Homo sapiens: one gene and its partners. The protein of the gene in region 3 purifies or fractionates together with the protein of the main gene of each other region. This does not show direct contact. Each region holds a gene or a part of one and is shown on either strand. Other genes may lie near its edges.

What was found.
Region 1: the proteins of CBLL2 (region 3) and SERTAD4 purify together in Homo sapiens (affinity purification with mass spectrometry; 3 studies listed by BioGRID and IntAct, with this or other methods). This does not show direct contact.
Region 2: the proteins of CBLL2 (region 3) and PPP2R2D purify together in Homo sapiens (affinity purification with mass spectrometry; 3 studies listed by BioGRID and IntAct, with this or other methods). This does not show direct contact.
Region 4: the proteins of CBLL2 (region 3) and WTAP purify together in Homo sapiens (affinity purification with mass spectrometry; 3 studies listed by BioGRID and IntAct, with this or other methods). This does not show direct contact.

Annotation. Positions count from the first base shown.
Region 1 is NC_000001.11:210,242,796-210,248,939, reverse strand, and holds the end of SERTAD4 (SERTA domain-containing protein 4), read right to left. Parts: 3' UTR 3,141-6,144; coding exon of another isoform or gene 3,013-3,140; 3' UTR 2,685-3,012; downstream 1-2,684.
Region 2 is NC_000010.11:131,938,090-131,947,273, reverse strand, and holds part of PPP2R2D (serine/threonine-protein phosphatase 2A 55 kDa regulatory subunit B delta isoform), read right to left. Parts: coding exon of another isoform or gene 9,100-9,184; intron 9,078-9,099; exon of another isoform or gene 8,622-9,077; intron 7,244-8,621; coding exon 7,078-7,243; intron 6,693-7,077; coding exon 6,580-6,692; intron 6,507-6,579; exon of another isoform or gene 6,482-6,506; intron 3,307-6,481; coding exon 3,129-3,306; intron 1,980-3,128; coding exon 1,815-1,979; intron 1-1,814. UniProt on the Homo sapiens protein: Substrate-recognition subunit of protein phosphatase 2A (PP2A) that plays a key role in cell cycle by controlling mitosis entry and exit. Involved in chromosome clustering during late mitosis by mediating dephosphorylation of MKI67.
Region 3 is NC_000023.11:22,268,630-22,274,961, forward strand, and holds CBLL2 (E3 ubiquitin-protein ligase CBLL2), read left to right. Parts: upstream 1-4,283; 5' UTR 4,284-4,362; coding exon 4,363-5,640; 3' UTR 5,641-5,832; downstream 5,833-6,332. UniProt on the Homo sapiens protein: E3 ubiquitin ligase catalyzing the covalent attachment of ubiquitin moieties onto substrate proteins. May operate on tyrosine-phosphorylated SRC substrates.
Region 4 is NC_000006.12:159,729,791-159,738,974, reverse strand, and holds part of WTAP (pre-mRNA-splicing regulator WTAP), read right to left. Parts: intron 8,091-9,184; exon of another isoform or gene 8,010-8,090; intron 6,579-8,009; exon of another isoform or gene 6,544-6,578; intron 2,718-6,543; coding exon of another isoform or gene 2,710-2,717; coding exon 2,680-2,709; intron 1-2,679. UniProt on the Homo sapiens protein: Associated component of the WMM complex, a complex that mediates N6-methyladenosine (m6A) methylation of RNAs, a modification that plays a role in the efficiency of mRNA splicing and RNA processing.

The DNA of each region.
Region 1 (6,144 bases), on a different chromosome or scaffold from region 3:
AGACAGAGTCTCACTTCCTCATCCAGGCTGTATGCAGTGGATCCATCTAGGCTCACTGCAACCTCTGCCTCTGAGGTTCAAGCAATTCTCCTACCTTGGCCTCCCGAGTAGCTGGGATTAAAGGCGCCCCCCACCACACAGGCCCGGCTAACTTTTGTATTTTTAGTAGACACGGGGTTTCACCATGTTGACCAGGCTGGTCTTGAACTCTTAACCTCAAGTGATCCATCCGCCTTGGCCTCCCAAAGTGCTGGGATTACCAGCAGGCATGAGCTGCCGCGCCTGCCCCCCCTTTTTTTCCTAACTTAATACTGTACTTTTTCTGAGTAAAAGCTAGGTTTAAGAAAATTATTTGATACAACAACTAAATAAACTTGAACTTTGGCAAATCCTAGAGATGAGTCAGAGGTTAGTGGTTTTTAATCTTTCCATTTGTAAGGGACACCTCTTATTCCCTTCACATAGCCAATGTTCTGAAAGATTCTGTCTGACAAACAAATTGTATTTATTAAGGATAATGCCTTCGTTTTCCCAGTCAGAGTTTCTTCTCAGTTTGTGACAGCCTGGAGCTGATTTAATTCCAGCCAAAGGTAAGGAAATCTGATGTGGGGTTAGCCTGTGCAACCACTTTCAGAAGATTTTATGATTTGGTATTTTAAATACTAAACATATCTCAAGGTCACCAATGACGACTTTCATAGCTAAGGGCCCTGGGACCCCAGGTTTCATACCATCCCCCTGTTTAACTTCAAGCTTGCTGTACAGAACCAAAGAGGCTGAATACTTTCCACCAAAAGGAGGATCTGGCACGGTTGGGTTCCACTTGCCGGGCATTCAAGGACAGTAATGGAGAAGTCATGGAGGCTTGTTCACTGCAAACCCATAATGTACACCCAGGCAATGTTGAGTCACTTCCCTGATATTAAAACCTTTAATCCTGACAACCTGATGAGGTGGATAATGTGTGCTGCTCCATTTTACAGATGAGTAAACTGAGGCACTAGGAGGTAAAGTGGCTTGTTGGCCAAGGCCAAGCTTGCACAGCTACCCTGGCAGAGCTGAGATTTTCATCCAGGCAGTCTAACTCCAAACCCCCTACTCTTAACCCTCTTCTATACTCCAGTCTTGTGAGAAACCCACAACCTCTGTGCCTAAACTGAACAGGAGAGAGATTCCTTGGGCTAATGACCATAACTGTTCACAAATACAGTTTGGTGGGTTTATTGAAAAGCACAGCATCTAAGGACATGGAGAACAAGGAGAACCCCTCCCAGCTCCAGAAAGGGCAGACAAGCCATTTCTCTCTTCCTGCAAAAACATTTAAAACAATCCTTTAGTCCCTGAAATGTTTTTTTCTGTTTTCCTAAAGAGGTTTGACAAAGAAACAAAAAATTCTGTCTTCTTTCCCTTGCAGTCTTTAGACTTTTCCTTAAAGAGAGTGGATTCACTCTGCAGTGTACAGGGAGCACTGTATTTCTCAGATTTCCTTCAGTGTACTGGACCAGAGATCAACTCCCCAACCTTTTGCGCAAATCCCTTGCATAGCCTGTCATTCTCTATCTTTTGCTTATTGTGCACACAGGGATGTTGTGAGTTTTGAAGATGGTATAGATATCTGAGTGCTGTGCCAAGTGTATTTCAGAGACATCTACTCATCTCTTGGCTGAGAGGATACCAGGGTCTTACCACATCTGAGAGCTTAGTTCATTGCAGTCACTTTAGAGGGTATCTGAAGAAAAAGCACTGCGTCTAGAAGTATCAAAGATGGGTTCATGTGTGTGCTGACCAGAGGAGGCAGTGGAGAATCATATGCCTGATGCCTGGACTCAGCTGCTTCCATGGAAAGATCTGGATAGAGGTAATGCCTGCCGAAGGCCAGGCTGGTCTGCACAGCACAAGACTAGGGTACGTTAGATCCCTTTCCCCCAAAGTTCTGATATTTGCCTATTGTCTTGGAGATCTTGGCACAAAGCAAGATCATAACTTACATCTCTGCAAGTTCTTTTATATGTAGGTCCTCCCCACAAGATTTTATTCGATTTTCATATTTTTAAATCAAGAGAAGAGTCATAGAAATGGGGTTGAGAAATATAAGAAATTTCATGAGAAACAACTAATACATCGCCATACATTCTATCAGTTTCATTGTGGTCAAAAGCAGGTGTTTCCACACTGTGAATAAGTAGTTTGCATTTTCAAAGTTAACAAATTGGATCAACAACAAAGAAAAGAAACCAACCATAGACAGCCCACCAGCGGATTGTTTACCAAAGAAGATGAAGCTCATGGCGATGGTTTGCAAACACCACCAGACTAGCTTGTGTAAATTCCCTTCGTTTAGTCATCGTTCTTCAGCCTGTCACAGATACTGAAGGGAAATGCAGAAACAGGAAATTACAGACTATTTTAAACAGCATGTTTTATTAAAGTCACTTGCTGATGCACTTTATGGCAGGATGCGAGATTCAAGTGTTCATAACTTACATCTTTGCAAGTGCTTTTCCTAAGTGAGTTCTCCCAGCTCAAATATGGCAGGTACCCAAGGCTGGGAAATAATCTCCAAACTAGTAACTCTTTCACCCCAGGTCGTGTAGCTATATCACATAGAATTGAGACATTTTAGCCATGTCAAGATAATATACCTTGCTTAGGCACTATAGCTAAGAAAGCAACAGAGAGGCATCTTGTAGTAACTTAAAAGATCCTTAATGCATTTATTTTAAACCACAAAATCAAAATACAGCAATCTTAAAATGAATCACTATAAACCATACATTGTCTCTTCTTTTATTATTTAAATACTGATATCATTCTTCTCTTCATGGGACAGTTCTGCACCTAGTTTAAACCATCATTACTAATGCCATGCTGAATGCTTGTCTCTGAAAAAATCTAGTAAAATTGGCAGGGATGTGATAACCTTAACTACAAATGAAATAACTTCAAATTTAAGGGGCTGTCAGAAAAATGGAATTTCACAACTAATTATTTCCAAAAAAGTCTCCTGCTCACCATTTGTTAGAAGGATATAAAAACCTAGCTGCATCACATAGGAATCCTTGTATCCTTGTCTTATATTTGTTGCGAAGTTGATGTCTCTTAATGGTCATGTCTTCTACAAGTTGTCCTCTGCTCTGCTCCTGATACACAGAAAGGAAGTCACCAAGTGGAGCTGTAATACAAGTTCATAACTGGAGGGGTGGGTAGCCATGTCTTGATGGAGTTAACTATGAGCTCTAAAAATAAATACTTTCATTCCCTTGCTTCACCATTTAACAAAGAAGCATGTAAAATGTTCTAAATTTCTGTTGTCTTAATAAAAGGTCACGCCAAAGATGCTTTCCCCTAATTTTCAATTCATTGCCAGGTAGTGGCATCTGCTGGTTTTGAATTTTTCTGTCTTCCTCCCATGTCCCCTGTCCCTGCAATCCTGTCCCTAGGACCCCTGCAAAGTGAAATGTAGAATAATAGGATTTTGAGTGGAAAGATGATGATGAGACTTTTGCCCTTTGAAAATCCCTTTGCCAGACCACCTTCTATAATCTGCTGTTTTTAGAAAGGAAGGACCAGAGACAAAGGTTAATGATTTCATTAATGATATGCACCCAGATGCCTAGGGGAATAGCAATTAAAGGCACTCTTGGGGAGCAAGGCAACTTTCTTAAATGAAGATTTCCCCTCATTTATCTTTTAATAGTCTTGATTCTGTCATATCAGGTTTTCCTTAAAGCAGAGCACAGCAATGAGAGAAGGTGCAGCTTCCAGGCGCGTAGATACCAGTGTGGGTGGAGGATGTCTTAGCTTTTCCAAGTTGCTCGAGATAAAACTATAGAATCCAGTTAAGAGATATAACTTACTATGAAGGGTGTCCTGGCCACTCTAGGAAAATCTAATGGAATATCTCATGCATAAAAGACAATGCTGGGTGCATGGGAGGTGAACACAGGAAGTCCTAGCACTCTCGCCTACTAACAAGAGAATTTTTGTGGTTTGGATGGGTGTTTAGGAATTAGTGTTTGGTGAAGAAATTTTTTTTTGCAATGCTAGAAATATCCTGGAAACAAAAACTTGATGACTAAAAAGAACAGATTTTTATGCTGCTGGATTCAAAGGCATCACTTATCCTACAGAGAAGTGATTCTAGTGGGTTCTACCGAACAGGTGCAGGCGCTCACAGCTCAGGTGAGTGCTGCTGAAAATCACCAACTTTGTCATTTTACAGCTTTGGCCTTCAAGAAAAACACTATCTAGTAATGCTGGGGCTTTTAAAAAGCAGAAGGATAAGTCCTTTCGTTCATATTTAAATCTCCATGAGATATTACACTCATAATAAGAATGCTACATTTGACAAATTAATTAGTTTTTAACTAGCTTTCCCCTTTATCAAATATTAGCTCCTAAGAACATTAATATGGAATTGTATGGAATGCTACTAGCAATAATCTGTAGCTGTTATAACTGTTTACATATGGGTCATCTTCACAGTTTGACAGTTCATAATGCAATCAGCTAAGATTCAGTATTTATGGCTTCGTGTTATACAATTTTTTTCAGAGACACTCCAGAAAGGAAAATCTTTACATTCTTTCAGACATAACCTTATTGATCACCACATCATCTATTAACATTGTGCTTCTTAATCAATAGAAACTTAAACTTACGAACTAGGATCATTCTGAAACACCTGTCAGATTGGCATTTTAAAATACTCTTTAATTTAGAAAACTCCTGTGTGGCCACTATCCACTACAGTTTCTAGATGTTTTGAGTTTTTTAAAGGAGAGAGAATAATGGAAAAGAGAAACATAGCCAATAGCCATTAAAATTTAAAAAACTTAATGAATTTTTATCATCTTAATAAATATATATCAAGAAAACCTCACTTTATTACAACACATTCATATACAAGCATCTATTAGCTAAGTTTTGAACATCAAATGTTTATCAAATATTGAAAATAAAGGACAAAACATTACTAGACTATTTAACTATAACACAAGAAAATGTTTTAAAAATTGGTCTTTGTGGACAATTGTCCAAATGATCCTACTCATACACTGTATGAATGAGACCTATATTTAATATTAATAGCAATAATAAAAAAAGCTTTATCTTGGAGAAACTGGGAGGGCTTACTTATTTCCTCCGTTTGGCATTTGGTTTCTGTGAAGTATTATTTGAACAGGCCCAAGTCAATTAGTAAACTTGGAAACTGGAATACAGTTTAGCAGGAAGAGTTGGCTGGAGTGGAAGGAAGGATGGTAGGAGGGCCACTCTGAACACTTTTCAAATGTACAAGTTAAAGATATTATTTGGAAAATGTAGACCAAATACATAGTAACTATTATAGATTAAGTCCCATTTCTCCAAAATAACTTTCAAAAACCTAAAGTCTTTACATTCTTTAAGATAAACCTTATTGATCACCACATCATTTATTAACATTGTGCTTCTTAATCAACAGCAAAGTTCATATATAAAAACCCACATGCTTTTATAATCTAAACAAGTGAAATGATGCAAAACAGAGAAAAGTATAATGCATGCCACTGGTTCGTGAACTTCATTGGACAAGAAAACAAAACAAAACAACCCAAAACCCAGAAAACCCCAACCCCAGCAACACACAGTTGCCATAGAAAAGCTCGAGCAGCCCGTGCTGCTTTCTAACAGCTCTCTCTCTCATTTCCTCCATCCCTATTGAAAAAACGGCGAATCCAAAAGCAATTGGGCATCAAAAATAAAGAATAGAGATGTCGAATCAAAAGCTGAACACAATAGTTCAAAGTTAACAGTTTCCAAACCATATTGATCCACCCTGTGGTTTTTTTTTTTTTTTTTTTTTTGTCCTGTTTGTTAAATCCCTGCTGTAACTCTGATTTATCCTTAATTTTCACATTGGCAAAAATTAAGATAAAAGTAAGGCACCAAAAATCGCCCTGTATAACACCTCTCTAAAAGCCTCATCACCCATCACAGGCAAGCCAGAAACTTGCAGGGAATACCCTCTCTGTGTAAGACTGTTGATTGCCGCCCCTAGACAGGTGTGTTTCATTATGTTACATCCTATTTTCATCTGTCACACAAGACTGTTAGGTACAAATACTTAACAGCACCATTAAGCCATTTCATCTAGCTCCCTGT
Region 2 (9,184 bases), on a different chromosome or scaffold from region 3:
CCGGACCCTGAATGAGAATCTCTAGGCAAGGTCCTGGGCACTGCCATCTGTGGGAGCTCCTCGGGGCATCCTGATGTGTGCCCAGGTTCAGCACCACCGCATTCCTGTAGGAGTGTCTCCGCGTCCTCATGGCACCAGGCCCGAGCACGTGAAATTCTATCGCATACACATCACAGGAAGACACAAACAGCATTATATGGTCATGCAGACACAGCGGTCTGTGCCTCTAAGAAACTGCCTGCTTTTTGGAGGGTCGACAGTTTGTGGGTCTGCAGGAGTGACCACCTTGACTGGCAACGCTGTGGTCCTGATTTTAACCACCAAGACGGTCCCGCCGGTCAAAGCCAGCCAGCCAAGGTTTGTCTCCAATACTGAATATACACAAGCTCTACTGTGACAAAACTGGATTCCTATTTTCAGAAAGATCCTCCCGCCTCAACCTCCAGGGTAGCTGGGACCACAGGTGAGCACCACTGCACCTGGCTTGTGCTTCCTTGACCTGAAGCTGCTTTAGGTTTTTTCTCTTTTTTCTTGATGCAGGAGCCTGTGTTTGTCGGCTTAGCATCTGAAATTAACTTGAAGCCAGCTGTGCCGACGCCAAGCATTTACTCAAATAAATCACTCTGATGACAAATAGAACTGGAATCTGAAATTATTTACTCAAGAATTTTATGCTTAAGATACAGGCCAAATGCTACGAAACACTCATCCTCATCGCAGGAATTCTAGTAGAAATACGAATTCTTAAAAACACACTCAACCTCAGGAAAGAGAACAGGCGAAAAGGCTGCTGCACACGGTCCATGGGCACATTCCACCGAGGCACTGGGGGCGCCGCTGCACATGAGCAGCGGCTCAGTCTGGTGGGATTGACTGGCGGCTTCCCCATCAGAGGAAGTCACTGGACGTGTGTCTACCTGCTGGCACTGGAGGAAGGGTCAGCAATGTTTCAGGACACTGGGACACGCTGACTACAGTGCTCTATAAAGTCAAGCCCATTCTTTATGGCTAAAAATAAAAACAAAACCAGAACCTCCCTCACCTAAAAGGAGCTTGAAAGCTCACTGGATTAAAATGCTAGACTTTCAGCTAAGGGAAGTGGCTTCCAATCCAGCCAAGCTCAACATGAACAGGAGCTCATTCCAACAGCTGGGAATGGCCTCCTGTGTGCTGGCGGCCTCAGCCCAGGTCTCACGCACAGAGGCAGAGGCAACGGGTGGCTCTTGGCGGGACTCAGTGCTGGCAGCCTCTGAGGAGACACCCAGGCTCTGGGCAGAAGTGACCCCGCTTCTCGGTGGTGCCAAAAGCACACTCACCCTACAGCCATAAGCCTGTGGGAAGCATGACCTCGAGTTCCACTTATTAGCAGCAGCCTCTGACACAGCCACACTCGGACGGCCCCAGCAAAGGAGGGCTCCCCAGTTGTGCAAAGGCACTTGGGGAACAGGAAGAACTCTCTAAGTCTTTGGAGTGTCTGAAGAACAAGTGGCTCTAAATGAGATGCTTTAAAAGACGCCAGGCGTGACCAGGTGCGGTGACTCACACCTGTAATCCCAGCACTTTGGGAGGCCGAGGTAGGGGGATCACCTGAGGTCAGACCAGTCTGGTCAACATGGTGAAACCCTGTCTGTACTAAAAATACAAAAACTAGCTGGGCATGGTGGCACCTGCCTGTGGTCCCAGCTACTCGGGAGGCCGAGGCAGAAGACTTGCTGGAACCCGGGAGGCGGAGCTTGCCGTGAGCCGAGACTGTGTCACTGCACCGCAGCCTGGGTGACAGAGCCAGACTCCATCTCAACAACAGACGCACTTACACTTGGAGTGTCTGTCGCACAGGGCCGAGGAGCGCATGTCACACAGGCGGATGGTCCCTTTGCTACTGCTGTAGACGAACACGTTGCACTGGTGCGGGTGGAACTCGGCTGCAGTGATGACTTCGGTCAGCTCCTCCATGTTAGCAGGCTTGATGTCCACGATGTCTGGGAGTGCATGGTTAAGGCACAGTGCTCAGCTCAGCTGGTTGTTAATTAGTCTACATTCAGTCACGCGAAATAGGACGCCAAATAATCCACGCAGTGAGGTTTAAGGGATTAGCTATTAAGAAGGCTGGTTACACATCCCGAATTCCAAAGGAGCGCCTGGTAAGGGGATTGGGATGAGCACACTCAGACTACAGCAACGCCCCGGCCCAGGGGGAGACACAGACAAGCGAACACCGCTTTCATCTTGCTGCTATTATTAATGTTATACAGAAAGCCCTTAATAGCAAGATAGTACATACTTAATCATATAAATAGGAAAACCAAGCTAGTACCATCTGTGCAAAATCCCACACTCCCACACAAAACTACAACACAAGAATGCCGCCAAATTCCAAAAGATGCTGCTCTTCCTGACATGAAGAGCTTATTCTGTGTAGCTAGAACAGATCCAACAGAAATCCTATACAGAAATCCTTCAACTGAAAAAAATAAGAAAGGGCAGAATTCAGCTGTGGGCCAATTCAGACTAGCAGTCCCAGTTTCACCCTTCAAGCTGAAACAACTAAGAAAACCAACATACGACATGGAACCCCAGCTCAAGCCACTGGACAGCAGAGGGAGGACGGCAGGGACCCTGGAGAGGCTGCAGACGAAGCAAGCCCCATGCTCCCGGCTGCTGGCTGGAAAGGGGCCCATGTGAGGAGGGCTGGGGCCACCCAGACTGTGCACAGCCACAGAAGAACACAGGTTCTAACTGGAAGCTGCTGCTCAGATGGGTGATTAAACACTGCTCTAACCTAAGCCAGTATTTTCTATTATTCATTAGCAAATTTAGAAAAAAAAAAAGAACACATAATGTTGGTTTTTCAAATGTAGCCTATTTAAAACTGCCTCTGATTAAACCAGGCAGGCAGTGGACTTCAGGTAATTCCCATTATACAGATAACTTTTTCCCAAAGGTAGAAAGAAATTTGTATTTTTAGGGACAAACATTTCAAATCACAGAGAACTTACATCACAGGCTGCTGTGCAGTGATGGTATTTACAAGACTAGACTCCGAGATACAGGTGTATAAAGGGACGAGAGAAATTACTATCTAAAGAGCACCCTCGGGAAGACGCCAGTGTCCCTCTGAGGAAGGATACTAAAGCTTCTATCTGTGATTTCTAAGTGCCATAAATTAATTCTCAGGTCATCTGCAGAAAGATATGTTTCATGATCACTATTTACTGAAATGGAATTTATATGATATGTGTGAGCATTTGCAAAAATTCGCCGTGGACTCGCTTCTACCATAAGATCCATGGGCTTCAATATTGGGACCTAAAAATGGAAGGAAATAGGAATTCAAAACAAAGATCACAGCAGCACATAATTAGAACACTTATAGTAGATAACGAAAGAGGACAAGTTTATATTCATGGCTAAGTAATAATTCTGTACAGGCAATACCCCCAAATAACCAATTAGCAGAGTTATGAAAATATGCTACAAAATGGAATACTGTCTATTCCAAGTCTTCCCCTTGCTTCCATTACCGAGGTCGACATGTTCCTGCTGAAGAGAAGATCAGCTGGCAGGGTAACAAACTGCCCAGGCACCGAGGCCTGCGGCTCCCTCTCCTGTGTGTCCTCCAGTGGCCACACTGAGGCGCTGGACAGCAAAGTCCTCCTGGGTGGCTCAGCTGCACCCCTCCCTTTGTCCTCTCCTTGCAGCTAGATGCACACACCTCTTCTCACTGCACTAGGACTATGCTTCTCGGTGCAAACCCCACAAACCTCCACTGGCTCCAGGTACTGGCAGGGTGCACAGCAGGGTGCTGGGGAGCTGAGGATATTCCATTTCTTGGTCTGGGGCTGGCTACATGGGCATGTGCACCCTACAAACATTCATGGAGCTGGTCACTTATAGGGCAGATGTCTTATCTGGAGGTATGTATTATATATTACACTTCACTTGAGGTTAAAACAAAAAGTAGAAGGTACCTCCCGCCCCCATCTCTGTGTTGAGTGCTGTGGTCAGGGAGGCTTCCTAGGGAAGCCCAATTCGCACAGAAATAGAAAGGACAGAGAGGAGTGGGCGCTGGCTGCAGGCCGCCTATGGTCAGAGGTGAGAGCTCAGGCGTGAGGAATAGCATCACACATGAAAAAAGGAAAAAGGCCTGTGTCTCACTAACATCCAGCTGGAAGAAAAACATAAGCTTTAAAATCAAAACAAAAAATTAATGATAGTATTTTTTGTTATTCTTGTAATTAGAAACCAAAAGGGAGAGCCTTGAAAGCTTAGGGGAAAAAGAAAAGCTCTCAACTGAGTCTTGTCTGGCTGAATTCTGTAAAAAACCAACTTGGAAAAGTGTGTGTAGGGAGGCTTCCCTCATTTTAACCCAGGTAGTGCTGACCACACCCTTGGATTCTCTAGAGCAAGAAGAGTCAGTTCTACCAAGTTCAGGCTTAAAAACACACACCTACCCCAATCCTCTAACAAATTTCCCATTAATCAAAACATATGATAGCTGCAATACTTACAAAGATTCCTTCTTTTATTGAAAACATTTTAATTTGCATATAAAATAATTTGCTTTCATTTTTAGAGATGGGGTCTGGCTATGTTGCCCAGGCTGGTCTTTGAACTCCTGGGCTCAAGTGATCCTCCCATCTCGGTCTCCCAAAGTGCTGGGATTACAGGTATGAGCCACCATACCTGGCCAAGATTTCTTCTTTTAATTATATCCCTTTTCTGGCACTAAAATAATTTAAGAGCAAAAATTTAAAAACAGCAACATGTCTGACTCTTACCCAGTTAGGCTCAGATACATAAATAGCCCACTCTGAACTGTTAGAGAGGTAAGATCTCAAATACCGACCTAAGTCAATGTACAGAATTACCTGTCTGTGGTCTCTTCCCCATGCACCAACTAATGAAATAACTAGACTTCTCACACACCTTCAGTAGGGCCACCAATTATACCCGTTTTATTTAGGCTAAACCTACAAAAGCAGCCTTGAATAAAACCAAGACTGGGCCTAGTAAAGGCCTACTGTTCTCCCAAAATGAGCACGTGAGCTGATGGGTTGTGGCAGGGTCTGATCAGGAGGAACAGGGGTTTCTGAGGGTGGGGTGTGCACAGGTAACTGGGTGGGAGGTGGTGTTGGCTGCAGAAGAGATGGACAAGGCTGGAGGGGGTCAAGTGCCCACCCTCGGGGGTCCCATCACACTTCTACTTTAGGATCAGCAGTTTCATGATGATGGAACTGCACAACTCGTGTTACTGTCACTAAAAGTGATTTACACTAATTCAGGGGTGCAAAGGCGGCAGCACTGTGTATCAGACATCACCAACATTTTGGATCAAAACATCTTGGTTCAAATTAGGACCCTATAAACTAGATTTTCAGCAAATGCCACAGCCTTTCTCGCTTTGATGAACTCATAGGAAATACGGTGACAACATCGATGTGAGAAGTCTGAGGACACTCCTCCTGAGGAATGCACAACCCCAGGTGTAGCCACCCCACACGGCAAAGCTGGAGAAATGGCATCAGAACAGACCCAACATCACTCCCAGAGGCACATGTGTTAGGGAAAGGCTTCTGCGGTACAGCGTCCTCTGTAGCACTCTCCAAGACTAATGTGGAATGGGCTCACTCACTCAGTCTTCACTTGATAAACAATAGTGTAAAAGGGGCTGAAATCTCATTAAAAACCAACCAAACCACCCAACTCAACCACCCACCCCCCGCAACCAAACCACCCAACCACCCAAACAACCAACGGTTTTCCAATCTAGTAACGGCACCCCCTTGGGACCAGGCAGAGTTTCCTTCCAGGGGACACACCTCTGCACAGGTGCTGGTTTCTCACCAAGACACACCTGGGCTCGAGCCCAGTTTGCCGGACACCCTTCACCATGTTCCATCTAATTTAAGACAACATCAGTGGTGCGTAGCACCAGGCCAATTATAAGACATTGAGGTTTTGAGTTTTAGCCGGTTTCATAAATGTTAAAATATGAAAAAATTTAGGCATCAGAATTGATGAAATATGATCATTTCATACTACCAACAATGGAGCAAATAATTTAACAATTAAAAAAGTAATGATGCTCATGGATGGACAGGTGGAGAGTTCTGAACCATCAGCATCTGCCTAAACCAACCCCAAAGAAATTCCCCGAGAAGCGTCCTGAATGTACCTGTGGCCCACAGCTCATCTTTCGACCTGCAACCTGTGCTACTGCACCTGTGAGGTGTTCTGAATTTCATCTGAACTCCAACCTCCCAGGTGCTGTTCTGAACCTTCTGAGAGAAGGGTGGTTGCTATGTCCACAAAGATTTCTGCTGTAGAATTAAATATGAGTTTTCCCCTTAGTATTGCTGTGTTTCCTAAGGACCACATGTGACTTTCTGCCTTTGTGAAAACAGGAGAAAGACCTTGCTTTTAAACACACACATGAGTGCAAACGACTTTCAGGAATCACGAGGCAGACCTCACAGCAGACCTCACAGTACTCCACCGCGCAGCACTCTCCAGACAGCAGACTGAAACGTTTATTCTTAACTTCTCAACAGCATTGGATAAAGCAAAGGCAACGTGTACCCGTAGCGCCGTGATCCTAAATGGGTCTCGAAGTCTTCCATCTTCGTCTTTCAGGTTATAACCTTCTGCTCTTTTATCCCGTTCACTTATTTTCCATAATTTTATAGTTTTATCTGAAAATAAAAACCTCATTCTCCATATGAAAAGAAAAACTATAACATGCATCACTACTGTTTGAGTACTGGTATTAGAAAGCGGTGTGGTCCTATATTGGGTTATAAGCTATGGGGTCTCTGAACATGAATATTTCCAATTGGAGGTGTTTTGTACAATAAAGAAAGATGTGCAGACGTGCAGAGTAACAGCATAATAAAGTGCACGTGTGGTTTTTGTTGCATACTTTGAATTTTCAACCTATCACTTGCTACCCTAGATAACTTACCCTCCCCCCAAAATTTAAAGCAGGAATAACTTCTAAAATAAAAAGGAATCTACACACACACAGAAAATTAAAAATAAAAAACTAAATCAAACAGCCACTTAGAACACAATTCTTACCATTTGTAGACAGTAGAAAATGAGCAGCATTCTGTTGTGGTAACCACCTAATTTTATTAATTTTTTCCTCAATTTCTAGACTTTTCAAATAGTCAAACTCCGGTTCATGACTTTGAAAGGTGCTGTAAACATTATATTCTCCCCTAGAATGAGGGCGGCTTTTATTCTGCAAGGAAACATGAGAGCTGTTTTAATGAACAAAGCACAGTGTAGAGAAAATTTCAGTACTATAAATTTGAATATCAAATGACCATACATATTTTTTAAAGCTAAAAAATCCTGGCTCAAAAAAATCTCAGATGAAACTCAGGGAAAAAAAAAAAAAAAAGAACGAACTTGATTTCCGACTCTTCGACTCCACTTCTAGGTATGCATCTGGAGCAGGTCTGCCGAATGCAGCCTTGCTGTATTTTCTGGAGCAGGTCTGTCAAATGCAGCCTGCCGTATTTTCTGAAGCAGGCCTGCCGAATGCAGCCTGCCGTATTTTCTGGAGCAGGTCTGCCGAATTCAGCCTGTCGAATGTAGCCTGCTGTGTTTTCTGGAGCAGGTCTGCTGAATGCAGCCTGCCGTATTTTCTGAAGCAGGTCTGCCAAACGCAGCCTGCCGTGTTCTCTGGAGCAGGTCTGCCAAATACAGCCTGCCGTATTTTCTGGAGCAGGTCTGCCGAATGCAGCCTGCCGTGTTTTCTGGAGCAGGTCTGCCGAATGCAGCCTGCCGTGTTTTCTGGAGCAGGTCTGCCGAATGCAGCCTGCCGTGTTTTCTGGAGCAGGTCTGCCGAATGCAGCCTGCCGTGTTTTCTGGAGCAGGTCTGCCGAATGCAGCCTGCCGTGTTTTCTGGAGCAGGTCTGCCGAATGCAGCCTGCCGTGTTTTCTGGAGCAGGTCTGCCGAATGCAGCCTGCCGTGTTTTCTGGAGCAGGTCTGCCGAATGCAGCCTGCCGTGTTTTCTGGAGCAGGTCTGCCGAATGCAGCCTGCCGTGTTTTCTGGAGCAGGTCTGCCGAATGCAGCCTGCCGTGTTTTCTGGAGCAGGTCTGCCGAATGCAGCCTGCCGTGTTTTCTGGAGCAGGTCTGCCGAATGCAGCCTGCCGTGTTTTCTGGAGCAGGTCTGCTGAATGCAGCCTGCCGTATTTAAGGCAAGTGTTAGTGGAACACAGTCAGGCCCATGTGTGCACATACTGTCTCTGGCTGCTTCTGCACCATCTGGGTAGAGGTGAGTGGTTGTGAAAAGGCCGCATGAGCTATAGAGGCAAAAATGTTTGCAATCTGGCCCTGGAGAGAAAGTGTCTGCTGAGTCTGCTCTAGAGGAGAGCCAGCACGGGCCTGAGGAGCGTGACACAGCGATGTGGCAGCTCCAACACAGTGGTAGTGAACCAGACGCCACACATATGCCAACCAGAGGCGAAGGGCAACAGTAAGCCACAGGGCCATGCAGGGACCACCACGAAGCCGCTGAGATAAATGAGCCAGCACAGACAACCGCACAGTGCTGCACAAGTGAAGCAGGCTGCACAGGTGCCCAGAGTGAGGTGCTGCTTACGTACGTACAGAACAAGTCTGTTACAGAAGTGGAGAAACATGCTTGGGAAGACATATGCCATCTTCAAAATCATGAGCAACTCTGGGAAGCTAGAGGGAGAGTGAAAAAGACCAGGAGGAAAGTAGCAGGCTGAAATGGGGAGGGGACAACAGGAGCTTCATCTGTATCCCGAGCATTCTCCTTCCTTTGATGAAGGGATAACCTCTGGGTGGTGGGTTTGCAGGTACATCTATATTAACCTCTGAATCTTCTGTATGCCCTAAGTGAAATTTTCTATTAAGTATTAAATATTTCATAATTCAAAATCAAGGACGCCAGTACTTTCATTCTTGCTCTATAACCAATATCTAATATCTTAGGTGTTTAACACTTTAGTACATATGCTAAAGGAATGGAACTAAACGAACTTTCAAGTCTAAACAGATGTTCCTTGATATTTCCAATCTGATCAAGTATCAGGAGAAGACATCCCAAGAAGCTACCCACACCCGCACTGCTGCAGAGTCCAATGTGCAGGGCATTCCTTCCACCGAAGCCTCCACGGGCAGAAGCTGAGCGCCTCGCCTGCCCC
Region 3 (6,332 bases):
TTTGGGAGGAGAGGTGAGGTCTCCTTCAAACAGGGCAATTTGCCTTCCTTTTTGGAACCCGAGATGGACTTTTTATTTCCTTGCAGAACTGAAGGCATCTGGCTTGGGAGCACGATTATTCTCCACTCACCTTTAAACTGCCTCAGCTATTACTAAGTCTCTGGCAGTGATATGTTGATTATGTGAATTTAAAGCCCACAGGAGCCAGAGGAATGACAGATCAGTTTCTCTTAAATGAGAAATAAAATCCAGGAGCCTGGCAGCGGGACATACGGCTCTCACTCCTGCTGACCTTTGATGTCACTCGGGTAGAATGACTGCTTCTAGGCCAGATGGCATGTAGCTTAAACGGAGATGTCTCAACCTGTTTCCTTGTATTAATTGTGCACATTGATACTCCTCCATTGTGTAGTCCATAATTCTTCATCGTCAACCTCATTTGGATTTTTTTTTGAGGGGAAGCTGAGCTCAAGCAGGCCTCCACGAATTCAAGCTATTTCAAAAGCTCCAAACCCAAACCTTTTTCTATCCAATCACTGTTATAGGCTGACAGACACTGAATCTCCCTTCTGTCAATTGAATGTAAGTCTAGCAACTTTTAAGAGCAATGAGATTGAAGGAAAGGGCCTTCTTTCACCTCTTTGCCCTAAAGGAGGTGGCTGAATGGAAGCCCATTTAATTTTTTGTTTAAAGGTACTAAATAAGGATCAATTTGTAAAGACGGCTCTCTGAGTGTAGCAAGATAGTTTCTTAAATCTGATAGGGATAAATGGGAGGTCAATATCCTTTTTCTTATCAACAATTTCACCAAATAATATTTACTAAGAACTTTCACATCGGGTTTCTCAGCTATAAACAAGCAAACACTCCAAGCAGAGATATTGGAAGTGCTGAACCAGGACAGTTGCTGGGTATGGAGCTAGAAGCTAACATCGCTTGTCTATGGAAAAGCATGCTTTCATTACTCAAAAGCTGAACTTTTAATTTATTTCTAAATCAATTTGAAGCAGACCCAATGAGCGAGAAATGCAAATGTAGTCAACTGGGAAAAGAAGCTGACTTTTTTCACTCAGGGTCATGGGTAAGGATAGAATTCTGCCACGTGAAAAATGTCTCAGTTTTGACAAAAAAAAATTAACACTGCTTCAAGGAAAGAGAAAATAAGTTATGGACGTTATATCTGACAGATTTTTCCCTTTGTATTCATGGCATTTGAATTATATGCACATCACTAAAAAAATATTGAACCCTCATAAAGAGCCTGGCAAGTGAGTAACTGTAATTTTAAAACAGGAACATTCGCATATGTTTTAAAGCTGTTTTAGTTTTTGCTCAGAATTCTGGTTCACTATTTATAATAGGGCAGAACATCCATGCTTTTGTAAGAACCACTTTGGCTTATAGAAAATACAGTACCGGCCAGGCATGCTAGCTCACGTCTGTAATCCCAGCACTTTGGGAGGCCGAGGCTGGCAGATCGCCTGAGGTCGGGAGTTCGAGACCAGCCTGACCAACCAACAAGGAGAAACTCTGTCTCTACTAAAAATACAAAATTAGCCGGGAGTGGTGGCACATGCCCGTAATCCCAGCTAATCGGGAGGCTGAGGCAGAAGAATCGCTTGAACCCGGGAAGTGGAGGTTGCGGTGAGCTGAGATCGCGCCATTGCACTCCAGCCTGGGCAACAAGAGCAAAACTTCATCTCCAAAAAAAAAAAAAAAAAATACAGTACCGCTTTAAAAGTTTCTAAGCCAACAGAAATTCAAATGATCTAAAACTTAAATCAACATATAATGGTTTGAGAGAAAAACATGCATTGGCCTTAGTGTTTAGGTAGGTTAGGTATGTTTGGAGACTCCATGAGAGGAGCCCATAAGGAATTTGTTTGCACGAGGGATGAAGTTGCTTCCTGTGAATGAACGAACCCTAAGACAGAGTAGCATTGATGGGATATTGAGAAGGTCAAGAACTAGGGGACAGTATCAGAGGCAAGGGGCACTGTTCATTTAAATTTAAACTAGCCACCATGAGCTTATAACCCGAGTCCTTGGTAGAGGAGCAATAACTAAGAGCAAGCGAAGGAATGATTTCAGAATAATCTCTTTAAGACACTGGGGAGAATAAACCTGAAATGTTTTGTAGGCCATGTAATAGAGTGAAATGAAAGGGAGCACAGAAGTCCATTTACCTTCTTGGACTCAGTGGCCCCTTCAGTGAGTATTGTGTCTTTGCTGGGGCAATTGTGACTTTGCATATTGATGGACACTGGTGCCTTTGGTGGTTATTGGGGCATTGTTGCGTTTTCACCATTAGTGAAGTCAAGAGTCAACAACTTGGCCAGGCGCGGTGGCTCACGCCTGTAATCTCACCACTTTGGAAGGCCGAGGTGGGTGGATCACCTGAAGTCAGGAGTTTGAGACCAGCCCGGCCAACGTGGTGAAACCCCGTCTCTACTAAAAATACAAAAATTAGCCAGGTGTGGTGGCACATGCCTATAGTCCCATCTACTTGGAAGGAAAAAAAAAAAAAAAAAAAAAAAAAAAAGAGTCAACAACCCAACAAGCCAGAGCCAGGGAAAAGGAAAATGATCACTGCTATGTGGTAACTGAGTACTGAAACCAACATAATTCTCTGTCGCTGTGTAAAACAATAACAGACGTGGGAATAGTTTTCTGTTCCCATATTAATCCATGTTGAGAATAAGCAAACTTAGCTACTTGCTCCAGGAAATACTTTTTCCTGAAAATTAAAATTGTAAACCAACTAAAAGAGTTTACTTAACAAGAATACCACCTTCCCCATCAAAACTTGCTTCAATATTCTCCTCCTGCTATGCCCACCAATCTACAGCTATTACGTCACAAAATCTACCCAATCCCAATTAGAGGCCTGCCTTGCAAGACCCGCCCTGAAACCACCCAACTTAGTCCCTAATAACCTATCCTGTCATTTCCCCTCTGAGACACTGCCTAGACACCATTAAGGCAGAGTTCTCTCATACTGCAGTAAGTCTCATAAGATACTTCACTTTGATGGATCAGTGATGTTTTTCTAGTATTTTAGGGGAGGGCACGGAGTAGGGGTTGACAGCCAACGAAGCTAAAAGGGTGAATGTCTGCACATTCAGGAGAATAGAGGTGCCACAATTATGGGTGGAGTGGAGGCAGAAAAATATGGTGTGTTGCTGTTTTTACGATCCAGTTTGTACTTAGAGGCAAGGTAAGATGTGAGGAAATGTGGGCTAAATACCCATAACCCTTTTTAAAATTAAGCAAGAACAGCAAATGTCTAAAAAATGTCTAGCCCAGTGAAGTTACCATCTATTCACTCCTGTTTTTTTTTTTTTTTTTTTTTTTTTTTTTTTTTTTTTTTTGAGACAGAGTCTCACTCTGTCGCCCAGGCTGGAGTGCAGTGACGCGATCTCAGCTCACTGCAACCTCTGCCTCCCACGCTCAAGCGATTCTCCTGCCTCCTGAGTAGCTGAGATTACAGGCGCGTGCCACCATGCCTAGCTAATTCTTGTATTTTTAGTGGAGATGGGTTTTCACCATGTTGGCCAGGCTGGTCTGGAACTCCTGGCCTCAAACGATCTGCCTGCCTCGGCCTTCCAAAGTGCTGGGATTACAGGAGTGAGCCAAGGCGCCTGACACTATTCACTGCCTTTTACATGATTTTTCCTTGACGAGATAAATGTAATGCTCCCTTCTTCCAGACAAAGGTGATTTTAAACTTACTGTATCGTGAAATCACAAAATCTTAAAAGGTATGTGTATTTTGTGTGTATGTATATATACATGCACACACACAGACATATCATCCTATCTTATTCCAATGAGTGATTTAAGGTAGTTCACAAAAATGCAATAGGATAAAAATAAGTCAGTCCTAGAAGGCAAAGCTCTGCAGGGCCTGCTGGGAATTTATTCCCCACGCCCATCAGTTTCTGTTTCCATGAAGACCCCTTTCTCTTTGAGTACTGAAGAGCAGCATCAGCAACCTCAACACTGAAGCTTTTTCTTTCTCTGCCCAAATTCCCTCACTAGAGTGGTGGGACAGGGTAGGTGAGGAGAGAAGGAAGCCCTTAAACGTCAAAGCAGTGGAGGGTTGGGGAGGCATCGGATCGCACTTTCGCCTCCTAGGCTGGGGAAGATGGTGCACATGCGTTGTAATGCGCACGTGTTACTGGCACATGACTCCCGGTCCCTTGTGAGCCGAAACTTGGATCCTAATGACGTTGATAATGGGTTACTAGGCACTCATAGTTCTGGATCGTTGGGTGGCCTTCACGTTAGCAGAAGAATTCCTTTAAACGTCATTTTTGAGGAAGTAGACAAACCTAAATATGTGTCTGAACTCCAAGGAATATGAACAAGATGCCTGCTGGTGAACAAGAATGTGAATATAACAAAGAAGGGAAGTACTACTCTAAAGGAGTTAAACTGGTGAGAAAAAAGAAAAAAATTCCTGGTTACCGTTGGGGGGACATTAAGATAAACATCATAGGTGAAAAGGATGATTTACCAATTCATTTCTGTGACAAATGTGATTTGCCTATTAAAATCTATGGGCGAATAATTCCGTGCAAGCATGCTTTTTGCTATCACTGTGCTAATTTATATGACAAAGTCGGATATAAAGTATGTCCGCGCTGTCGTTATCCTGTGCTGAGAATTGAGGCGCATAAACGAGGTTCTGTCTTCATGTGTAGTATTGTTCAGCAGTGCAAGAGAACATACTTGTCTCAGAAAAGCTTACAGGCTCATATCAAACGCCGCCATAAGAGAGCTCGAAAACAAGTTACCAGCGCTTCGCTTGAAAAAGTTCGTCCTCATATTGCTCCGCCACAAACTGAAATCTCTGACATCCCTAAAAGACTGCAAGACAGGGACCATCTAAGCTATATTCCACCAGAACAGCACACCATGGTGTCACTACCGTCTGTGCAACATATGCTACAAGAGCAACATAATCAGCCACATAAGGATATCCAGGCTCCTCCCCCAGAACTATCTCTAAGTCTGCCTTTTCCCATCCAGTGGGAAACCGTTAGTATTTTTACGAGAAAACATGGCAATTTAACAGTTGATCATATTCAGAATAACTCAGATTCTGGTGCTAAGAAGCCAACACCTCCCGACTATTATCCTGAGTGTCAAAGTCAACCAGCGGTATCGTCCCCTCATCATATTATACCTCAGAAACAGCATTATGCGCCACCTCCATCTCCATCATCACCAGTAAACCATCAAATGCCATATCCTCCTCAGGATGTAGTTACTCCTAACTCGGTTCGTAGCCAAGTGCCAGCTCTAACCACGACCTACGATCCATCATCTGGATATATTATTGTAAAGGTGCCACCTGATATGAATTCTCCTCCACTACGTGCTCCCCAGTCTCAAAATGGTAATCCATCTGCAAGTGAATTTGCTTCTCACCATTATAACCTTAACATTTTACCTCAGTTCACCGAAAATCAAGAAACCTTGAGCCCTCAGTTTACACAAACAGATGCAATGGATCATAGAAGGTGGCCTGCATGGAAACGACTGTCACCTTGTCCACCAACGCGGAGTCCACCTCCTTCAACCCTACATGGTCGATCACATCATTCACACCAGAGAAGACATAGACGGTATTAAGGATGATAACAGTATTTGGAACTGAAGACCTGATGGGAAAAAAACCTTCAAGTTCTATACTGTACTGTGGATAAGCGGCTCAGTTCAGCAGAGCTGGAGTTGAACAACTTTGTTCCTCTGGTGTGGTAAATTGACCTAAAGGTGACCTCTGACGATTTCCTGAAATAAATATGCAATGTTACATTTTCAAAAGTATTGTGGTTTTTATTTTTTTATTTTTTGGTGATATGTTAACCTGTGTAAAAGGGTTAAATTTCAATACAGCTGTAAAAATGCTATTTTATGTGAACTCAAGCATAGTCACATGCTGTTTCTTAAACATATTTTACCACTGATTTCCCAAAGTACAATACAAATCCTAGAGGTAAAAATCTACTACAATGTACAGTTAAAGCAGACAGCTAAATGGTAGATAATTATTTCACATTTTAGGAACTGAAATTTTAAGGTACAATAAGTGTATAGTGCATTTCGTTTGGATGCCTTTTCATTTTTAGGCAGCCGCAGAAGCACCAAAATATATCAGAATTCCAGTACTATGATAGATTTAAGTTTGCAATGTTAAAAAGCATTACTAAATCATTTGGAAAGATATGGCCAAAGTAATTGTATCTGTAGGCTCCAAGCTAGTGGGGACAATGTTACTTGTTAATGCTTTTTTTTTTTTTTTTACAGAATCGTTCAAATCACAT
Region 4 (9,184 bases), on a different chromosome or scaffold from region 3:
CAATATGAATTTAGTGTTCTTCCTGAAGACACAAAGTTCTATAATGAGACCTATGAAACATCTCCCAAGTGTGAGATTTAAACGGCTCAGTACATATTATGATTTTTTGAAAAAGTATTTTATTACAAAAGTTTTTTTTTTTTAAGGTAAACTATTTGGTATCTTAACAATGGGCATCATCATTAGGAAAATGCACATTAAAACCCCAGGTATCACCACACACTGATTAGAATGGCTAAAATAAAAATTAGTGGCAACACCAAACGCTGGTGAGGATTCAGAGAAACTGAAGTTTCCTACACTGCAGGTGAGAATATAAAAATGGTATCTGAAGAAGTATGGCAGTTCCTTTTATTAATACAACTAAAAATGAATGTGCCATATAACTCAGCAGTTGCACTCTTAAACATGTATCTCAAAGAAATGAAAACATGCAAGCAGCTTTACTTGTAAAAGCTAAAAAACTGAAAACTATCCAAATGTCCTTTAACAGGCAAATGATTGAACTATCATACAGCCACACCATGGAACACTTTAAGCAATAAAAAGAAACAGGACTACTGATACATGAAACAATTTGTATAAGCCTTAAGGAAACTGTGCTAAGTGGAAGGAAAAAAAATAGTCTCAAAAAGATGCATACTACATGATTACATTTATATAACACTCTGAAGTAACAATTATACAAATGGAGATAAATTAGTGGTTGCCAGGGGTCAGGCATGGAGAGGGACGGGGTAGATGTGGCTATAAAAGAATAACTCGATGAAGCTTTATGGTGATAGTTCAGATATGTATCTTGATTAATGATGGTTACACAAAGCTAGACATGATAATAGTGCATATAGCTCTTCCCCACTTCCCCCAATAACAGTGCTAGTATAACGTGAAATGTGAATAAGCTCTGTGGATTGTACCAATGTCAATTCCCTGATTTTCACAGTTATTAGAGATGTCTGCTAGTCACGCAAGGTGTTAACAATGAAGCAGGCTCAGTGAAAGTTGCACAGAACCTCTCTGTACATTTATTTGCAACTTCCTATGAATCTATAATTATTTCAAAACAAAAAGCTGAAAGAAGGGCATAAGCTAACATGCTTCAAAAATTGAGAAACAGTATATTCACTACACCAAATAAAGGCTGTAAAGGTGAGATACCTCTCCTACCTCAGTATAAAATTAAGGCTTTGGCTGGGCATTGTGGCTCATGCCTCCTGCACTTTGGGAGACTGAGGCGGGAGTATATCTTGAACTCGGGAGTTCAAGATCAGCCTGGGTAACATGGCAAAACCCCATCTCTACCAAAAAATACAAAAATTAGCCAGGCGTAGTGGCACACCTGTAGTCTGAGCTACTTTGGGGGGCAAAGGTGGGAGGATCGCATAAGCTGGGGTATGAGGCCACAATGAGCCAAGATTGTACCACTGCACTCCAGCATGGGCAACAGAGTGAGACTCTGTCTCAGAAAATAAAAAATAAAAATAAAATAAAGGCTTTATTAGTATTCCCTTACAAGACACTTAAATTTTTTTCCTTAAAAATGTTTCAAATTATAATACTAACCAGTAAAATAGTATTACCATAAAATGGAACGAGGGAACTATTATAATGTAACATATTGAAAGGCTGCCAGAGGCAGCTCATGCCTATTATCCCAGCACTTTGGAAGGCAGAGGCAGGTGGCTATCTCTTGAGCCCGGGAGTTCGAGACCAGCCTGGGCAACATGGTAAAACCCCATCTCTACAAGAAATACAAAAATTAGCTGGGCGTGGTGGCACGTACTTGTAGCCCCCAGATACTCAGGAGGCCGAGGTGGGATGATCGCTTGAGCCCAGGAGGCGGAGACTGCAGTAAGCCAAGATTGCACCACTGCACTCCAACCTGGGCAAGAGAGCAAGACCCTGTTCCAAGGGAGGAAAATCAAAGGGTACCAGAGGGAGCACACAGTAATTCTCAGATTATGAAAGCATAATACAATCCTTTATTCATTTAATGAGTAATCTGACTCCACAATAGGAAACTTCTGTAATATCTAAATTATTCACTTAAATATTAAGTTTAGTAAGCTTTCCCAATTGAATCACAAATTCCTCCTAGAGACGATGTTACCTCTTTTATAACAGCCACTGTGTGTGTGTATGTGTGTGTATGTAAGAGTAATTAAACTCAAGGTAGGAATGCACAACAGGGGGAGATTTGAGACTAGACAACAAAACTTCAGAGAAAAAGGTAGAATTTGAAAATTAGCTATAACCATTTTTTTAATAAAGTAGTTTTTAATTACAATCAAAGGGATTTACACTAGGAAAAGAATAATAATATACTCATAATGTCCATTTTTGACATTATTTGTATATATGTACCTGGAAATATTTACATAATGAACATTAAGAGTAGACCTGGAAATATTCACATAATGAACATTAAGAGTAGACCATGGGAATATTATTATAACTAAAGTTTTCCAAAATCTGAAAATATTCTAAAAAATATACTGGATATAAGATACAATATCTGGCACACTGTACAACTCCAATGCTATTATTGTTATAAAGGCAAAGAAATGAAAAATAAGCAAACAACGATAATCCCTTCAAGTCTATTTTTTTTTAAAGTGCTTAAAAAAGCCCCCAAAAAACCCAAAACAAAACAAAAAAACCCAAAACCAAAACCCATACCTTCTTGGGAAGAGGTTCTTCGTTGGTCATCTTGAATCCTAAAAAAAAAAGTTGCGGAAAACAAGTTCAATTTATTTTCTTCCAGTGAAAGTAGGAATAAAAAATACTGACTCTTTCAAATCAATTTATTAGTGAACTAAATTACTGTTGAATAATTAGAATTTAAATAAACAATTTTAAAATAGTTTTAGATTTACAAAAAAGTGGCAAAGATATTACAGAGTTCCTATATACTCTGTACCCAGATCTTCCTTTGTTAACATCTTCCATCATTAGAGTTATTGGGTAGTTTTTACAAATTCCCTCGTAAAAAAGCTGATCAGCCATTCAAATCATTTGATGTCGCCATAAAGGGTGAAGAGAAATATAATGACCTCAAGTAGTATCCTACGCATGTTGCTAAGGGACTATAAAAGGGTAATACCAGTTTAAGTCTTTCCTTTTATAGCATTATGTTGTTAAAGTAAGGTAGTACCTACCACAGCCATAATTTACTACTGCCCAATAGTTTTTTAGATATATTATATATTTTATTTTTATTTTTTTTGAGACACAGTCTCACTCTGTCGCCCAGGATGGAGTGCAGTGGCGCGATCTCAGGTCACTGCAACCTCCGCCTCCAGGGTTCAAGCAATTCTCCTGCCTCAGCCCCCTAAATAGCTGGGACTACAGGTGCGTGCCACCACACCTGGCTCATTTTTGTATTTTTAGTAGAGACGGGGTTTCACCGTGTTGGTCAGGCTGGTCTCGAACTCCTGACATTGCAACCCGTCCGCCTTGGCCTCCCAAAGTGCTGGGATTACAGGAATGAACCACCACGCCCATCCTATTACATATTTTAAAATATATGTTACACTGGTTGGGCGTGATGGCTCACGACTGTAATCTCAGCATTTTGGGAGGCTGGTGGGTGGATCACTTGAGGTCAGAAGTTCAAGACAAGTCTGGCCAACATGGTGAAACTCGGTCTCTACCAAAAAATTAAAAAAATTAGCCCGGCGTAGTGGCACACGCCTGTAATCCCAGCTACTAGGGAGACTGAGGCAGGAATCGCCTGAACCTGGGAGGCGGAGGTTGCAGTGAGCCGAGATGGCGCGCCACTGCATTCCAGCCTGGGCAACAGAGACTCCATCTCAAACAAACAAACAACAAAAACTCACATACACATGTATGTCACACCTTAATAAAAATATTCCTACAGTATTTAATTTTATGCCAAATATTTTGTATCTCAAAATTAGCTTCTTTATTATACAAAATTCACTTAACCCTGTTTCAAAGATAGGTTAATGAATTCAAGTAGGGAACACTTTATTATGCTGTTTTTTAGAACGAATGCTAATAGCAGGTATTATTCATTAAACTACAAATCCACACACAAAAAAAAGACAAAGAAAAAATGTGTAATAAACATAAACACCACATTAAAATACAAGGTTGGAAAAAAAAGTATACGACATGAAGAGCTAACCTGACAAACATAAAATCTTTATATAAAAATTCTATGAGGATTAAAAAATTGAATCAGGGTTCTGAGTACCAGTGCTCTTTTGAAAAAGCATCTAAATTGCATTTGGCATATTCATAACTTATACAAATTAAGTAATTAGTTCTTATACTAATTTAGTTTTTCCTATTCTTTCTTTCTTAAGAGATGGGGACCCACCATAGTGCCCAGGCTAGTCTTGAACTCTTGGGCTCAAGTCATACTCTCATCTCAGCCTCCCAAGTAGCTAGAACTACCTGTGGAAGGATCACGCCCAGCCCTAGTTATTATTTCTAATAGTATACTCATGAATCTTCCCTTACTTTAAAGTGTTTATGGTTTATTTTAATTACCCATACTTATTATAAATTCTAAACTACTAGAAATTTGACCAAAAGCTTGGTATGTTAAACTGAATTTTTTTTTTTTTTTTTGAGATGGAGTCTCACTCTGTTGCCAGGCTGGAGTGCTGTGGCATCATCTCGAAAGCTACTTGAGGCTGGTGTGGTGGCTCACACTTGTAATCCCAGCACTTTGGGAGGCTGAGGCAGGAGAGCTGCTTGAGCCTAGGAGTTTGAACCGAGCCCGGGCAATGTGGTAAGACCCTGTCTCTCATTAAAACAAACAAACAAAACACACACACACCAAGACTACTTGATTTCTCCCACTTGATTTTGAGATTCCTCAAAAGGAGATAATCTTCCAACAGCATGTTTTATACTACGTACAATCTCAACTCCACTTTATAAATGAAACATTCTAATCATACTGTTATTAAACCCTGGTTTTCAGATTAAGTAAATTGTGTTGAAGAAAGCAGAATTTAGAGGAAAAATCATAAATTGATCTTAGATTACTGGCTTGCTTCTTTCTCTGTTTAATCTTTTTTTTTGGAGATGGAGTTTCGCTCTTGTTGCCCGGGGTGGAGTGCAACGGCGCGATCTCGGCTCACCGCAACCTCCGCCTCCTGGGTTCAAGCAATTCTCCTGCCTCAGCCTCCCAAGTAGCTGGGATTACAGGCATGCGCCACCACGCCCGGCTAACTTCCTTGTATTTTTAGTAGAGACGGGGTTTCTCCATGTTGGTCAGGGTGGTCTGGAAATCCCGACCTCAGGTGATCTGCCCACCTCAGCCTCCCAAGTGCTGGGACTACAGGCATGAGCCAGCGTGCTGGGCTTTTTTTTTTTTTTGAGACAGTCTCGCTCTGTCACCTAGACCACAGTGCAGTGGTGCGATGATGGCTCACTGCAATCTTGACCTCCCAGGCTCAAGTGATCCTCCCACCTCAGCCTCCCGAGTACCTGGGACTACAGGCATGTGCCACCACACCCAGTTAATTTTTTGTAATTTTTTTTGGTAGAGACAGGGTTTCGCCATGCTGCCCAGGCTGGTCTCGAACTCCTGGGCGCAAGCAATCCAACTGCCTTGGCCTCCCAAAGTGCTGGCATTACAGGCGTGAGCCACTGCACCCTGCCTTCCCTCTTTAATCTTTCTCAAGGGATACAGCAAACAGATAAAAACCTCAGTATTTGTTTCTGAGCTAATTGTATACAGTCTGTTTCACTGAGCAAGTCACTCTGTCCTATGAAGACATAAACCATATTACTATGATATAAAATGTATATTATTCTTTTTTTCTTTAAATTGGTTCCTCCCTTGTTGCCCAGTTTATTATCTCTGCTGCCATTACAGAAAGCTGCTTTGTAACTACCTTAACCTGGTGGCAGTCATTTTAATCATCTCAGAAACCATCACCATATTTAACTCCACATGTCTAACTACTTCTATTTTAGCATGACACATGCATTAGGCTGCAAAGTCTTAGAACCCAGATATCAAATCTGGCATTTCCTTGTAATTTCCCATTTGTCTGGAGCTAAATATCAATTTTACACACACACACACACACACACACACACACACTATATATATATACAGAGAGAGAGAGAGAGAGAGAGAAAGAAGCAGACAGAGACACTCCCCCTCCCCCTGCGCCCGGTCTCTGTTGCCCAGGCTGGAGTGCAATGGCGCGATCTCGGCTCACTGCAACCTCCACCGCCTGGATTCAAGCGATTCTCCTGCCTCAGCCTCCAGAGTAGCTGAGATTACAGGTGCCTGCCACCACGCCCGGCTAATTTTTGTATTTTTAGTTTCACCATGTTGACCAGGCTGGTCTCGAACTCCTCACCTCAGGTAATCCACCTGCTTTGGCCTCCCAAAGTGTTGGGATTACAGGTGTAAGCTACTGCGCCCGGCCAATAATATTTTTAATTTAAAAAATCTTAAAGACAATTTTAGCTATTTGAGCTGTACATATTTAACCGGTATATCAGTATCTGTATCTATGTATATACGAACATAAAATTTTGAGAACCAACCAGGAACTTCACGTAACAGGTACTGTGGTAGAGATCTGTGAATGACAGTTTGAAAACAGCTATATTTATCACTATGGCTAGGTGGTATACCTTTTATCTAGTTACTAAGGCATCCTACCTACTCAGTATGTACAACTTTAGTTGTAATACTAAAGTATCATGGATGCTGTTCAATATAAATTCCAGCTTATAAAAGTTATTATAGTTGGTCCTTGACCAACCCAGGTTTTAGCTGCATGGGTCCATTTATATTTGGATTTTTTTCAATCAAACTCAGATTAAAAAATACAGTACTCGGATCAAAAATACAGCATTCACGGGATGCGAAACCTGAGTATGCAAAGGGCAGACTTTTCATACACCAGGGTTCAAATTCCTATGCCAGGATTTTGGCAAGGATCATCGGTATGTGGTTCTACAACCTGATACTTTCCCTAGGTTTACTTGCTTACTCTCTTCTTAAAGACAGGTATCCATATTCTTATTCCACTAAAATAAAATTAACAGTAAGCTTAGCAAAAAATGAGATGATAATCTGTTTTTAAAGGGCATTAAAAGGACTGAGAAACACATGAAGAAAGTTCTGATAACCTTGGTATTCTGAAACAGGTTGTCAACTTTGCAAATACAAAAGTAGCAAAATCTCTGCACCTCAGTTTCCCCATCTCAAAAAGAATTACCACAACCAGGGCCCAAATACTGTGCTATTTCTGAAGACAGACATTAATCTTTAGCATGGTAACTGGCACAAAATGGGCATTTAATTAATAGTTTCTTCTCCCCATCAAAAACACAGACTCAGTGTTTCTTGAAAAACCTGAAGAGATAATCCACAGGTTGAGGATAATAATCATACTGTCCTCCCGACTGTTTCTAACACTTACTGCAGAATTCTTTGGCATCTCCAATATTTAGGATTCTAAACAGAAGTTACTTAAATTTTCTTTTTTTCCTCTCTTTTTTTGAGACAGAGTCTCACTCTGTCGCCCAGGCTGGAGTGCAGTGACTCGATCACAGCTCACTGCAGCCTCCATCTCTTGGGCTCAACTGATCCTCTTGCCTCAGCCTCCTTTGTAGCTGGGATCACAGGCATGAACCACCACGCCCAGCTAATTTGTTTTTTTTTTCTTGGTAGTAGAGATGAGGTCTTGCTATGTTGCCCAGGCTGGTCTTGAACTCCTGGGCTCAGGAATCCTCCTGCTTGGGCCTCCAAAAGTGCTGGGACTACAGTTGTGAGCCACCATGCCCAGCCTGCAATTATTGAAATTTCTTTTCTTTTTTTCTTTTTTTTGAGACGTAGTCTCTCTCTGTTGCCCAGGCTGGAGTGCACGGGCATGATCTGGGCTCACTGCAACCTCCGCCTCCCGGGTTCAAGCGATTCTACTGCCTCAGCCTCCCAAGGAGCTGGAACTACAGGCACGCACCACCATGCCCAGCTAATTTTTGTATTTCTTTTTTTTTTCTAGTAGAGACAGCGTTTCACTATGTTGGCCAGGCTGGTCTCCAACTCCTGACATTGGCTTATGTTCTTTTTAAAAAGTTTGATGGTGAGTAGATTTTAATTAAATGGTGCTTTTTATTGAAATTTTCTTTAAAAATAAAACTCTGTATTTGTAATGTAAGTCAGGAGTAAATACAGATTTTGGATAAATGTCTACACTTCCTAAGTCAACTCTCAGAGTCACTTTTAAGATCACTCTAGCTGTCTGGGGTATCCAACTTGGGAAATTCAGAGCCTCAGTATTTAGAAAGAAAATCCTTCCTCAACTTTAATCTGATGAAAAGTAAATCTTTCCTTGAAAGTCGATGATATGCCACAAAGTTAAATGCGCCATCTGGCAAAAGGCAAATTAGAACAGGTTCAAAATTTACAACTGTCTACAACATTCAACTATTTGGTCAAAATAGAACCTAATTGGCAATTTTGACTTTCACACCACACGAATGTACCGAGAAGTTTGGTATTCCCCAGGGCAATTTTTTTTTTAGCGCAAATGACAAACACAATAACCTAAATTTAAAGTCAATTCTAGATTCATAAAGGCAATGAATATTCTAGGTTCTCAGAACAATCTATTCTCGTATCAGAAAAACAGAATGACCATAACATCATTTGGAGTCAATTAAAGTTGAATCCTGAAGGAAAATAATAAAGAAAATATGTTCAGTTCTTATGAATCACACATTTAATAACAGCACTTTTCAAAGTCAAAGTTAGTTCCCATTTTCCAGGATGAAAATGACTGTTAGTCATTAGGTGATCAGCTATTAGGTGATTAAAACAGCTATTAATTAATAAATTGGGGGTAAGGGTCTCAAATTTGGTGCCCCTCAAAAGGGTGGTAACATGATTGACTAGTTTTAAAATTACATAAAAGTTTCAGTTATTTATGTAGATAATTCAGAGATAATATATCTCAGAAAATCAGGACCACCATCTACTCTTGATGCCTTAACACAGAAAAACAGCTTAGTATGGAGTTCAGTCTAGACTGGTTAGGTGCCTAGCATCCCAGATCCCAGTACCTTCCTGGCTCTTAGCATCATAAAGTTAGGTAACTCAGTTCCCTCTGAACGGAGGCAAGCGCCAGCCAAAACAACTTCAGTAAGAAGACACGGTACCTTGGCGAACAAATCATAG